Linked DNA regions of Homo sapiens. The protein of the gene in region 3 interacts with the protein of the main gene of each other region in a biochemical or structural test. Each region holds a gene or a part of one and is shown on either strand. Other genes may lie near its edges.

Region 1 (3,500 bases), on a different chromosome or scaffold from region 3:
AGCCACTGCTTCTCCTTGAGTGGAGTGTCAGTGCCGAGGGTGTGAGGTAGCAGGTGTGACTTAGGTTTGTTACAGGGAGGTGTTAGGCTGGGCTTGTGGGGCACACATGGCACATAGGGGTGAGGGTGCCTTGAGGGTGGATCAGGGGACACGTGGGCATGGGCTTCTGCCCCCTGCCCCTTTCTTACCTTCTTCCTTCCCTCTCCACCACAGGCATGGGCCTGGAAGGAGAACTTCTTGGAGGTGGGGACCCTGGAACGCTATACAGTGGAGAGGACCAACTCAGGCAGTGGGGTGCTATCCACGCTCACCATCAACAATGTCATGGAGGCCGACTTTCAGACTCACTACAACTGCACCGCCTGGAACAGCTTCGGGCCAGGCACAGCCATCATCCAGCTGGAAGAGCGAGGTGACTGGTAGTGCTGCCTGCCAGCTGGGGTGCAGAGCAGCCTGAGGATTCTGCTCCTTCTTTTCTCCAGGGGCAGGGCTCAGCTGCTCCCCTTCCCTTGGGCTCTGCTCTGAGGGAGGGGACACACAGAGGGATGTCCTGGCTGAGAGGTCAGGAGTGAAGGGGTTTGGGGCTACTCCCCTCTGATTCCTGCCTATTGTAAGAGTCTGTGCATCAGAGGGAAAGAACTCTCTGGGGCCTTCCCTCCAGAACCTGGCCTCCATGCTCAACTGGGGAAATGCCCTCACTTCGTTAAAGTGTACTGAGCATTTGCTATGTGCCAGGCTCTGCCCCAGGGGCTGCAGAAAGAGCTGTGAACAAGACACAGTCCCTGACCTCAAGAAACTTTCGGTGTAGTGGAGGAGGGACTTACAGAGTGGTAGTAAATTAATTCGGATGGAGAAGAATCATATGAACTGCAAAAGGGAATAACACGCCCATCTCATTGGGTGGACGTGAGGATTAAATTAGAGAATATTTACAAAATGCCTGGCATACAATAGGTGTTCAGTAAGTATGGGTTCCCCTACCTCTTCAAGAATTGTCACTCTGATAGCAGAAAAGTGTTCTCTCCTTTAAGGCACTTCTCACATGATAAAAGAGGTATTCCTTTGACTTTTTTGGAAGCTACCAAGTCCAAGGAGGAAAAGATAGCATTTTTTTGTTGTTGTTTTATTTTTTGAGAACTAACCATTTGACATAGGAGATGGAGAACCACATGGAAAATGACAGCATCCCATCACTTCAGTCTTTTTTTTTTTTTTTTTTTTGAGATGGAGTCTTGCTCTGTCGCCCAGGCTGGAGTGCAGTGGTGCGATCTTGGCTCATTGCAACCTGTGCCTTCCGGGTTCAAATGAGTCTCCTACCTCAACCTCCCGAGTAGCTGGGACTACAGGCACCCGCCACTACGCCCGGCTAATTTTTTGTATTTTTAGTGGAGACGGGTTTTCACCGTGTTAGCCAAGATGGTCTCGATCTCCTGACCTCATGATTCACCCACCTCGGCCTCCCAAAGTGCTGGGATTACAGGCATGAGCCACCATGCCCGGCCTATCACTTCAGTCTTAACTAAGGATGCCAGCAAGGGGGTTGGGGGTGGGGAAGAATGGAGTAGATACAGTAACGTGGGGCTCCACAGGGAAAGATCTCAGAGGGGAAGAGCTATAAGCAGGATCTGGATTCAACTAGGGCTGCTAGGAAGACAGAGAAGGCTGGAAGCAGGATTCCTGAGCTCTTCCTCAGCTCTGGGAAGCAGAGGAAACCAAGGAAAACTGTTGGAGCCCTGAGTAGATAGGTGAACATTCGGCAGTCACAGTGGTATTATGGATGGCACAGTGGTGAAAGATGTCGGAACACGGGTGGCAGATTGGAGAGTTTGGAGACAGCTGACCTCAAAGAAGAGCGAGGGGCCAAGCATCATAGTCAGGTGGGCTGAAGGACAGGGATCGACAGACAACCAAGACCAGGGGCAAACTCCTGCCCCAGCTGCAGGGATGAGACATGACCATGATCTCCATTCTGATGGAGCTGGAGCACAGACCAAAATCCAACCACAATGCAGACCTTCCTCTCTAATCCAACCTTGACTTAAACCTAACACTGTCCCCAGGCTCAGTCAAAACTTAGCCCTGTACACAAGCCAAGGTTGCCTCTGTGGCTGTGGCCTAGCCTTTAGCCAGCACTGAGCTTAGCTCCCAGTATAACTCCAGCCTCACCCCTCCACCTTTCCTTCCCCATCGAAAGAGGTGTTACCTGTGGGCATCATAGCTGGGGCCACCATCGGCGCGAGCATCCTGCTCATCTTCTTCTTCATCGCCTTGGTATTCTTCCTCTACCGGCGCCGCAAAGGCAGTGAGTATGGGCCCTGTGCAGCCCACAGCCTTCCCCTGGCTCTTCCAGGGCCATGACAGGCAGTGCTTGGGGTGGATGGGAGGTTGGCCCTTGAGCTCCAGCCCAGAGGGAGCCAGAAGCAGCCGCTGCAGAGACCAGCAGGAAGCACTTGTTCCAGGCTGCCTCTCCCGTCCCAGGTCGCAAAGACGTGACCCTGAGGAAGCTGGATATCAAGGTGGAGACAGTGAACCGAGAGCCACTTACGATGCATTCTGACCGGGAGGATGACACCGCCAGCGTCTCCACAGCAACCCGGGTCATGAAGGCCATCTACTCGGTGAGGGTCCTGCTCCTCTCTGGCCTCCTGCCTTCTCCACCCTCTGAGGACCAGCTCCATCCCAGATCTCTAATAACCGCGGTCATTCTCTCCTTCCTCAGTCGGTCTTCCCTGGTCCTGCCACACACACTCTCCCACACTCACACACATTCTCTCACACACGCCCCAGGCTAGTTTCCTCCAGCAGAGGATAGGCAGCTGGGATTGTCCAAAGACTTCCTTTGCCCCACAGTGTGTGAAAGTTGGAAGCCCCCAGAGGCTTTCTGGTCCATCTGCCTCATTGCTGAGATGAGGAAACAGCCCTGGAGAGGGGCAGTGACATATACAAGGTCACATTACATGTTAGCAACCAAACTAGTGCTCGAACCAAGGTCTCTGGCCTCTTCCCACCACATCCCAGAGCCTCTGCTGAGAGGACCAGAACTCAAGTCTGCCCTTGACCTCAGACCCCACCCATGAGCAGGTGGCCTCTGAGCGTGGGGAGGGGTTGGTGAGGGGCGAAAAGAGCAGGGCTTCCGTCTGCTGACGTCCCACTCCTGCTGCTCCACAGTCGTTTAAGGATGATGTGGATCTGAAGCAGGACCTGCGCTGCGACACCATCGACACCCGGGAGGAGTATGAGATGAAGGTGGGAAAGGGGGAAGGGGCCAGGGCATGAGGGCTGGTGGGCCAGTGGGTTTCTGAGGTCCTGTAGCGGGGAGGTGAGGTGAGGACAGACTTGGGGAGGAGTGGTTGGGAGGGTTTTTGAAGGAGCAGAGGAGGTGGAATGCTAGATGGGGACATAGGGAGAGCTGGAGGAAGAGGCCCAGAAAGCCATGGTGAGACTTGATCCCCACCCAAGAGGGAACACTGCCTCCATCCTCTTCTCTCATTGCCCCCAGG
Region 2 (3,500 bases), on a different chromosome or scaffold from region 3:
AGCTTTGCCACAGATGGTGGCATCTCCCAGAATTCTGGGGCTCCTGTGAGTGACTGGAGCTCTGATGAGGAAGACGGGAGCAAAGGAAGATCCAAGTCCAGATGCACATCCACCCTCTCCAGTCACACATCTGAGGAAGGGGTCCAGTGTAGCAGGATGGGAAGTGAAATGTATCTGACAGCATCTGATGACAGCAGCTCTATATTTGAGGAAGAGACTTTTGGCATAAAGAGACCAGAACACAAGAAGCTATATTCTTGGCAGCAGGAGGCACAGTGGAAAGCTCTAAATAGTCCTCTTGGAAAGGGAAATTCTGAATTAAGTAAAAAGGAACAAGATAGTTCCTCGGATGAACTGAATAAAAAATTTCAATCCCAGAGACTCGATTATTCATCTTCATCGAGTGAAGCCAACACCCCAAGCCCTATTTTGACCCCAGCTTTAATGCCAAAGCATCCTAACTCACTCTCTGGAAAAGGAACACAATTAGTGCCTTCATCACACCTGCCACCCCCAAAGTTAAGGATTCCTAATGTTTTCAGTATAAGTGTAGCACTAGCCAAAAGGCACTTAAGCCAGCCACAGTTAAGCTCTGACAGGATGTTTGGTACAAATAGAAACGCTATAAGCATGATACGACCACTGAGACCTCAGGAAACTGATCTTGATCTAGTTGATGGAGACAGTACAGAAGTTTTAGAGAATATGGACACGAGTTGTGATGATGGATTATTTTCCTATGACTCCTTGGACTCTCCAAATTCAGATGACCAGGAACACTGTGACTCAGCAAAGAAGGTGGCATACAGCAAACCTCCAACTCCTCCCCTGCACCGTTTTCCTTCTTGGGTAATTATATCACCGCATGTAACACATACGCAGTAGTTTTTTTCTCAACACTTTTTTTTTCTGGGAGGGAGTCTCGCTCTGTCGCCCAAGCTGGAGTGCAGTGGCGCGATCTTGGCTCACTGCAACCTCCATCTCCCGGGTTCAAGTGATTCTCCTGCCTCAGCCTCCTGAGTAGCTGATACAGGCATGCACTACCATGCCTGGCTAATTTTTGTATTTTTGGTAGAGACGGGGTTTCGCCATGTTGGCCAGGCTGGTCTTGAACTCCTGACCTCAAGTGATCCACCTGCCTTTGCCTCCCAAAGTGTCCACACTCATTTTCAAGTTTTACTTTTTCTTTTCTTCTTTCCTTTCAAATCCAGCTTTGTTCTGACGTTTTCCAGTTTTTAGGATAAAATTTCTTCTTCTCTTCCCTCACTGAGTTCTGAATCAATTGAGAAATAAGATAATGACAAGACAGATGGGAGATCAAGGTATTACCTTATTTACTGATAAAACTAATTTTAGAGAATTAGTGGGCAAATGAGCTTTCTAATACTGAACTTTGAGATTAGCTGGATTGAGTCACCTGTTCCCAGGAAGCCCTGGACCACCACAGGATTCTGCTACTGAAGCCATGCCCCTCTAAAACTTACTACCTCAAAAAACAGAACAGATGGTTGTTTCCTGCAGGCAGCTACTTCTCAAGAGAAAGGGGAGAGGAAGTTGCCAGGCTCTGCATGCCCAGTTTCTCCTTCTCAGCTTACCAATCACATTAAGCCACTCTTCCTCTTGGGGAGGGGAAAGTGAATAGGTGGAGAGGGATCAGCAGTGTTCAATTACTGGAGGTTCCTCCATGTGGAAGGAAACATTGGAGGTGGGAAAGAAGGGTTCCCCCTAACTGTGATATTTTGGGTGAATTCTGAACCGGGACACTTAACTCTTGTTAGTTATAAGTTTTTGAACTTAGTCGTTATTTGATTGGCTTTAAGATAAATTTAATTTTCTTTTTGAGCTTATATAGCCATTGGTTTCCAAAGTATCTTTCTACAGACCTAGAATAGATAAAATCTTCTTCCATTGAAACATTGACCATTAGTAGGATAACACTGCTAGACTAAAAAAAAAAAAAAATTCTTCCAATATTTGAAATAAAATGAAATGATCTGTTTAATTTTAATTTTTTTTTTTTTTTTTGAGATGAAGTTTCACTCTTGTCTCCCGGGCTAGAGTGCAATGGCGCCATCTCAGCTCACTGCAACCTCTGCCACCTGGGTTCAGGCAATTCTCCTGCCTTAGCCTCCCAAGTAGCTGGAACTACAGACGTTTACCACCACACCTGGCTAATTTTTTGTATTTTTAGTAGAGGTGGGGTTTCACCATGTTGGCCAGGCTGGTCTTGAATGCCTGACTTCAGGTGATCCACCCACCTCAGCCTCCCAAAGTGCTGGGATTACAGGCGTGTCACGCCACTGCACCTGGTCTGAAATGATCTGTTATAGATTTAAGTTTTTCTTCACATGCTGGCATAATTTAACCTTTGGCCTCCAGAGAAACATCTGGGTTGCAGGACTCTTTTGGTTTTTGGAGTCATGTTCTTTTATTACTATATTTTTTATTTTGTGACTGATGCAGTTTTAAGCAAATTAGGGTGGACATGTTTTTCTAATATAAATTCAGAACTTAAGATGTATGTGCTCTTATTTGCTTTCAAGAGGACATTTTATTTCAATATCCACATGAAACCTTCTGTAGTTTATTACTAAATTTTGGATAGCACAGGAAAGTGGAAGTTAATGGCATGTGAATCTCTGGAATTCTAATTATGTTATACTTTAGGCAGCAAGAAATTGAAATTTTGCCTATCTTATGATGTTGAGATTTTCAGAGATTTAGGTTAGGCTTTTAAGTTCGTTTTATTTGGCAACCCATTCTACTACTTTTTTTTTTTTTTTTTTTTTTCCATTCTGTCTTCTCTTACTCTTTTGAAGCTATTCGGTCCTGAAAAAGTAGTATTGCTTTTCAAAAGCCTTCCAGCAGACTGGCCAAGTCTGAGATTTTATTTCTGTGTTTATTAGGTATTTTCAGGTTTCAAGGAAAAGAGATGTATTCTAATTGCCTCAATAAATATGAGTTTATTTTAAAAATTTCTAAGAGCTTATTTTAAGGCATAGCCTATCCTTATTGAACTGGAATACCATGCAAATTACAATAGTCACTCTAGAGGGACAACATGTGATAGTCAGCAGTACCTCCGATAGAAACAAGTGACATCCATTGCCCCTGCTCCCAGTGGCTCAGCTTGTCCTCCCAGGCCTCCAGTCCCCTCTCTCTAATTCTACTACTAACCACTTTCCCCCAGTCTCCTAGGGCTTCAGACTGCCTCCCGTCTCCTGCTTACTGCCCTTATTGTTATATGTCTTTCTGTTGCTGTTTGTGTGTGGGTGTATCTCACACTCAAAGAAACTACATCTGATTCACTCAGCCAGGCACTATTCAATCGAAAATGTCCCTGATAGTCGGAGAACTCATGCCAGTTGCCTCTCAAGCCACTGGCTGTCTTGAAGAGGATGGCCTTAGTTGCCCACTGTGTCCTGGACAGTCAACTGTGTCCAAGTTAGACCCATTATTAAATTCAGGACATGTTGCTCTATGCATTAGGAACCACCTGT
Region 3 (3,500 bases):
GAAGCATATCTTTTAAACTAAAGCCACTAAAAGTACATTTCTTCAATAAGCATTTTACATACCTTATTTTTTTCTGAATTTTCTGCCACTGTCTTCAGATGAGCTGAAAGGAACTTAAGTGTTTCATAATGATGTTCAGGCAAATCGTGAATCTGAAACAGATTATTTTCACAATGGATTCAGAGGCTGAATTTTAGTTGTATCCCCCAAAATATAAAATAATACCTACTAGTCTTTTTAATGTTTTCAGACGATCTAGAGGATCTTCTTTACGATTGGCTTCAATAAAATCAGCATATTTATCTGACGACAAGAACAATAAAACAAATTTATCTTAAATTGCCTAGGTGAATTGTAATCTAGTTTCCCTTTAAGGATCAATTTTAAACCACAACATAGGAAAGAGTTCTAATAGTTTTGAAATGTAAATTTCTAAAATGTAAGTTCCCTGCAGGAACCATCCTATATTTACACAGCCTGTCCATTCCTCCCCCACCCTCCAACAACATCTAGTAAAGTGTCTTACATGGCACTTAAATACTTGGCTTGACTGAAAAAACATTTTTCTACTCATTGTACCTTATGATGTCAGAAGCCATTTGACTGGAAACAATAATATTAATTTGGCTGCAAACATGTATGAACAAGATAATACATATTTCACTGAACCTAAATAACTTTTATGTTTTTAATATATGAGGGAGAACTAAATAAAGCCTCCTGCTTCCTTTGACCAAGACATTTTGTCCTTGTTCAATTTAATATTCTATGGTTTTCCAATTGTAACTTGAACCATTTCATCTGGTATCTTTCACGGGAGTTAACTCACCATTTGTGAAGAGAGGCTCAGGGAGTTTTCTGAAGAAGGATTTTAGTAAACTGCTTATCACATTCAAATCTCGCCATTTCTAGGTGTACAAAATAGAAATATAGTATTTTCATATCCAGTTCCACCAAAGGGGGAAAAAAAAGGATCAGTTATTCAAATAAGCAAACTTACATCATCTTGTATATCAATATCAGCCATTCCCTTGTTGAGTTCTTCTTGCATACTTGAGATGGCTGCATTATTTCCAGGAACTCTATAAATACCTGTATATTCAAGACCTCTTTCTTCAACTAATTTGCAACATATGTCAACTATTAATGGAATATACTGCAAAACAAGAAATAAACATTTTATTTAATGCAGCACAAATGTTTAGTAGTTGTATATCACAGCTAAAATGCCCCTTTCATCCAAAAGGAAACATAAATTGCTGTTATGTAATATAAAGAATACAGACATTATAGATCTGGGAATAGATAAAACCTGCAAGAGATATTTGAGACAGTAAGAAGAGAACAAAGAGACTGAAAGAAAGAGAGGGACCCCCAGAGAGATAACATTCTAAAAAGGAAGTAACAACAGGTAAAGAGAATGTGGAAACCGTTCCGCTGAATAAAGAGTCAAGAAAAGAGGAGGAGAGAGTAATATCAATTCATGATACGAATCCTAGCATGGGTGTTTTAAATATATGCACATACATTTACATGTATTATACTTTCTTAATCAGGTCCTTGTTCTCATCCTTGTTTTAAAATGCTAAAAGCAGAAACACACGATTTGAAGACGAATTCTTACAGACCATTTCAGACAAATTCCTAATGGTTGAATAATTATTCAATTTCGGAGTCAATACATTAGAAAAAAAGCATTACAGGTCAGAAATACTTAGGGAAACTAAGGTCTGCTATGAAAAGGAAAACAGATTGACAGTCTCTGTTGTCTGAAAGGCTATATACTCAGATCCCATTATAATCAAAACTGAATTAATGACTTGAGGAAATCCGGTGGGCTGGTGTCTCCTACCCGATTAGTATGAGCTGGTGGGCAGTCATCTAGTCGGACGCCGAAAGTTCCTGTAGCAGTTGGCTTTTTCTCAAATGTCTTTCTCATGATACTTGGAATGCCTTTTCTCCATGTGCCTTTGTCTTTTGGGGGACTGGTATCATCTTTTGATTGCCAGTCAAAATAAAACAACATAATAAAATGGAAATGAGTGTCTAAATCATGACTTTAAAAACACTTTATCAATGTTTACATAAATCCAAGTCCTGTAATATAAATAATACATCCTATATTTAACAAAAATATGTTCTCTTCCATATAACTTTTACTTCATTCTTTTATAATGCGTGCTATAATTTTCTTTAAAACAGCAAAAAAAAAAACTACATAGAATCAGTGTGTCATCTTTATAGTGAGACTTCAACAAAGGGAAAAGTAATAGTTTTATTTCAAAATGATAGGACCTGAATCCTCGGAGTCATTTAAATTTGTAATGTCTCTGATTTAAGTATTGTTTGTATTTTCCCTCACTTTCGCTTTATAATGAAGCTGGTGTCTTGGGCCTCACAAAGGGAAAGGCCCAATGAGCCCAGACCAAGCCTACTATGAATTTTGAGCTAGTTGACATGGGGCCTGGTCAGTAGAAATGGTACAGAAAACATAAACGTACCTCAACGATGCCAATTTTAAATCATTATATTTATTTGTTAGAAAGCTAACATCAATACCTTTACTGAGAAGTTTCCTTTCCGACTCTTCCTTCGGAGAGTGTGGGCTTTGAGTCTTTGGCTCTGATTTAGCACCAAGCAAAGTTTGCCTGATGCTGAGACTCTGGCGAGGTGTTTTTGGCAACTGTTCTGCTTTGCTGTTGAAGGAAATGACATTTGTTAACAATTACAGTAATCCCCCTCTATCTATGGTTTCAGTTACCCGTGGTGAGCCATGGTCTGAAAATATTAACTGGAAAATTCTTGGAATAAACAATTCATAAGCTTTCAATTTTGTAGTCCTGCCCAGAATAAGAATCATCCTTTCATCCCGAGTAGCCACACTGTATACACTACCCGCCCATTACTATATGGGAAAAAATATAGCGTAGAGAGGATTTGGTACTATCTGCGGTTTCAAGCATCCACTGGGGGTCTTGGAATGTATCCTTGCAAATAAGGGGGATGACTGTACTGATTTTATATCCAAATTAACTGCAGGCAAGGTGGGATTCTCACCTCATCAGATTGTTGTATTCTTTTATTCTTCGACTAATTAGATCCCTGTTAGTGACTCCAGTGTCCTACAGAATAAAGTAAAATTAGAAAATCAATTCTAAACATAAATAAGTGATCCTTACTTTTTTGAGGCTTTCTATTGTACTGCTTTGCTTATTTAACACAAACACTACTATCATCTGTTCTCAGTGGAGCTGTTTCAAAGCTTCTATTCAACATCACTGTGTGAAAGATTTTCCAAGTGCCTCCCAACATTGCCAAAGGGTTTTGCTTCTTTTCTGTATCCATGCGATACCTAGGATAGTACCAGCAAGTAACATGTGTTCAATACTTATTGAATTGATCCGTCCATTTAAAATAAATGACTAGGAAGCAGCCAGTGTTTTCTCTAATACCAGAAAGAATGATCAGCATTTAAGAAATATACGTGTAAGTGATTTTTC
Region 4 (3,500 bases), on a different chromosome or scaffold from region 3:
AACAAATGTGTGGGATTGGTTAAGCCCGGAGATCTTTAAAAATTGACATCATTTGGCCAGGCATGGTGGCTCACACCTGTAATCCCAGCACTTTGGGAGGCCAAGGTGGGCAGATCACTTGGGGTCAGGAGTTTGAGACCAGCCGGGCCAAAATACAACAAATTAGCCAGGTGTGGTGATGGGTGCCTGTAATCCCAGCTACTCGGGAGGCTGAGGCAAGAGAATCACTTGAACCCAGGAGGCGGAGGCTGCAGTGAGCTGAGATCGTGCCACTGCACTGCAGCCTGGGTGACAGAGTGAGACTCTGTCTCAATAAATAAATAAATAAATAAATAAATATTAACATTATCCATTCGACAGATACTTATTGGGCATTTTCTTTGTACCAAATACTTTGTACTTGCCAGTGACATAATGGTAAGTAAAGCATGGATACTAATTTTCAAGGAATTCATAGTCTGATGGTTGTATACAGATAAACAAAGAATTATCATCAAATGTAGAAAGCATAATGAAAGCCATCTATACAGGTTTATGAATACACAGAGCAGGAGTACCTATTCAGTGGTGTGCTGGTAAATGTTTAACAAGTGGCTTTGTCGGGGCATGCCTTGATTTATAGCATCCATCAATGTCTCTGGTGTAAATACTCCCACTATGGCCAATTTCAGTCTACCAACTTGATGTCATTGAATGTGGAGTTGCTAAGAGATGTGTGGCACACCATTATAGAGTAGCTCTCCCACATAGATAGAGTAGACTTCAAGAGCACAGAACATAAAATGTAGTAATGATTAGAAAATGATGAATTGTTAGTATTCATTACCTCCGTTTTTAATATCATTTAATTGCAAATTTATATAATTTTAAATGATTGTGTTTACAAGCTAGTTCAAAAAATTCTTTAACATTTAACAATTGGCTCCATAGAAGATGACTTTAACCAATGAAGTCTACTCTTCATTGTGGGCTAGGGCAACAGACTTTCTGCACCATACAAATGAGGGTGAACTCCTTTGCATGAGTAGCTATGTCCATTAGCATTGAAAGAAGACAAGTAACAGAAGAGAAGAGGGAGCAATGAGAAGAGCTGAGATGCTCAGAACATTGCACCGCATACAACCAAAGCAGAAAACTTTATAACCCTGCCTTTCAACTATTTTCTCCATATAATAACCTTCCGCATAAGGGGAGAAGAAAGGGAGAGATCAGTTAGCCCTTAGGTCCCTAAATAGTAAGGACAAAAAATCACATGAAAATTACAATATTCATTTCCATCCCCATGGAACATTCCTTCCAGTCTATGCTGATGTGGACTGCCAAGGAGGGCAGACTTGAAGACTTAACAAAATGATCCACTGGAAATCCTACGTTAGCAGTGGCGCTCATAACTTCATACAGGACTGCAGGCTCAGATTTGCAGGGGTGTTCACACAGTTCTGTGGAATGAGAGCAACTCAGGAGTGGACTCAGCAAATGGTTGAGTCAACTGTCATTTTTAAACTATGTCTTCAAAACTCTCACCAAAATGTATACACACAAATGCGTTATAACCTGTATCAGGCCTCTTTTGATTGCAAATAACAGAAAGACCTGGCTCTAATGGGCTTAGGTGTTAAAGACATTTAATGGCTAACTTAACTGAAGAAGTCTAAGGGAGAGCTCAGAGCTCCCTTAAGGTAGTTCTTGAGCAGGGGCTGAAGTGATGACAGTCAGATATGGTGTCTCTTTCTTTTGGATCCACTGCCATTTTCAGACAGGCTCTGCCCTCAAAGTCACAGGAAGGCTATAGCAGTTTCATAGCCCTTATATCTGCTCAGCTTCTCCCTTCTAGCAGCTGAGTAAAATTCCTGGGCTTGTCTCTGGCTGAAACATATCTAGTAGCATCTCTATGAAGCTGCCAGTACGTTAGGTCCATGGCTCCCAAACTCAGCTAACACAGTAAAGTCACCTGGGGAATGTGTTAAAATGCCAAAGAACAGGCCACACTTCCAGGCAATTAAATCACAATCTCTGGGGTTGGATCCAGGCAACATTATTTTCTTAAGGTTACAAGGTAATTCCAATGGAGAGAAAAATTTAGAAACCCCTGAATTGGGTGCTCATAAAAATAGGAGATTTTAGACTCATCTTCTGATTTACTAAGAAAGTCAAGTTTGATTAATTTCCTTAATGTCCACCTCAAAGTCTTTCTTCCTATGCTTTCCTGTCTCTGTGACAAGAGTGTCCCTCTTGCTCACTCTAGCTGGCTGCCATCTGTCTCGTGGTCTCACACTCACACTGTCTTGCCTGGTTCTAGAGTTCATCCCTCTTCTAGTTTGCATCTTGAAATTTTACCTCCCTACTGGTTCTATCCTTTTAAAAAATGCTCAGATTTCTCCCATCCTATAATAGCCTTCCTTATCCCCCATGACCCCGCCCTCCACCCCCACAGGCTGCTGCCCATCTACAGCCTAACTTTCACCTTCAGACTTCTTAAAAGAGTGGTCTGCCCTTGTTGCCTTTAATGCAGAGAATCCTTATAATCTGGTTTGGACATCAATACCCTGTGAAAACTGTTCTCTCAAAGGTCAGCAATGACCCACTTACAAAACAGAAGGGCTGCTTCTCGCCTCTCCTTCTCTCATCTTTGCTTTGGTTTTTAGATATTACGGTATCCAAACGCTATTTCTCCCACTGTTTTTCTCTCTGCCACCTCTATTAGCTTAAGAAAGCCTTGGGGAAAATGTGTGGGACGTGTATCCTAAACACATTTCTCAGACAATATGTATCAGAAGACTTGAAAGTGAAGATACATGAAGGCAACAATTTAAAGCACAAAATAAATTCTTTAAAGACAATTCAGTATCATGTATTAGACTGAAAACTGGGAAACAAACTAAAGATATATTATCCACATAAGGAAATACTACAGAGACAGTAACAGTTTCCTATGACAAGTGTGTGCTAATGTGCACAAATGGGCAGAATATTAGGAAGAAGATGTAAGACAAAACATGTATTATACATATAATTTCAACTTATTAAAAAGCATAATAATTTGTAAATCAATTTGTTTTCCTCCATTGGTTTCCATTATTATGATGACAACATATCTTTAGTGATATTTAGTTTTACCTTTTCTCCTAATTCATCTGTTTTGAAAATGAATAGAAATTTCCTTAGTACAAATGTAACTTATTGTATTCTTCATATATTCAGCTATTTAATAATGTAGTTGGAATTATTAGTAAGAAGCTCTTTCTCACTTTCTAATACCCCGAGCTTTGCCTGAATTTAGGTGGTCATCATTGACTGAGACATCCAAGACCACTGCTTTTATTGCTTTTTGTAATGGCAAGGTCAAAGTTTCCTTGGTTTGAAGGGTGCAGTAACATCCTTTAAGGAGCTACATGTAATAAATATCTGGGTGCATTTTTTTTTTGGATATATGCGATACTGAAACAAATAATTATTTTAAAAATCTGCAAATAAGATTTTCTTCTGTATATTTAATAAAG

Evidence for each region. The genes of interacting proteins can lie anywhere in the genome.
Region 1: the proteins of ARHGAP21 (region 3) and KIRREL1 interact in a test that uses a peptide from one of them, tested with the Homo sapiens proteins (one large-scale study listed by IntAct).
Region 2: the proteins of ARHGAP21 (region 3) and PLEKHH2 interact in a test that uses a peptide from one of them, tested with the Homo sapiens proteins (one large-scale study listed by IntAct).
Region 4: the proteins of ARHGAP21 (region 3) and GRIP1 interact in a test that uses a peptide from one of them, tested with the Homo sapiens proteins (one large-scale study listed by IntAct).

What each region holds. Positions count from the first base shown.
Region 1 is NC_000001.11:158,091,145-158,094,644, forward strand, and holds part of KIRREL1 (kin of IRRE-like protein 1 isoform 1 precursor), read left to right. Parts: intron 1-213; coding exon 214-412; intron 413-2,194; coding exon 2,195-2,302; intron 2,303-2,478; coding exon 2,479-2,618; intron 2,619-3,168; coding exon 3,169-3,246; intron 3,247-3,499; coding exon 3,500-3,500. UniProt on the Homo sapiens protein: Required for proper function of the glomerular filtration barrier. It is involved in the maintenance of a stable podocyte architecture with interdigitating foot processes connected by specialized cell-cell junctions, known as the slit diaphragm.
Region 2 is NC_000002.12:43,699,760-43,703,259, forward strand, and holds part of PLEKHH2 (pleckstrin homology domain-containing family H member 2), read left to right. Parts: coding exon 1-849; intron 850-1,250; exon of another isoform or gene 1,251-1,322; intron 1,323-3,500. UniProt on the Homo sapiens protein: In the kidney glomerulus may play a role in linking podocyte foot processes to the glomerular basement membrane. May be involved in stabilization of F-actin by attenuating its depolymerization. Can recruit TGFB1I1 from focal adhesions to podocyte lamellipodia.
Region 3 is NC_000010.11:24,594,888-24,598,387, forward strand, and holds part of ARHGAP21 (rho GTPase-activating protein 21), read right to left. Parts: intron 3,123-3,500; coding exon 3,058-3,122; intron 2,697-3,057; coding exon 2,560-2,696; intron 1,996-2,559; coding exon 1,853-1,995; intron 1,157-1,852; coding exon 1,001-1,156; intron 909-1,000; coding exon 830-908; intron 304-829; coding exon 230-303; intron 153-229; coding exon 63-152; intron 1-62. UniProt on the Homo sapiens protein: Functions as a GTPase-activating protein (GAP) for RHOA and CDC42. Downstream partner of ARF1 which may control Golgi apparatus structure and function. Also required for CTNNA1 recruitment to adherens junctions.
Region 4 is NC_000012.12:66,669,077-66,672,576, forward strand, and holds part of GRIP1 (glutamate receptor-interacting protein 1), read right to left. Parts: intron 1-3,500. UniProt on the Homo sapiens protein: May play a role as a localized scaffold for the assembly of a multiprotein signaling complex and as mediator of the trafficking of its binding partners at specific subcellular location in neurons.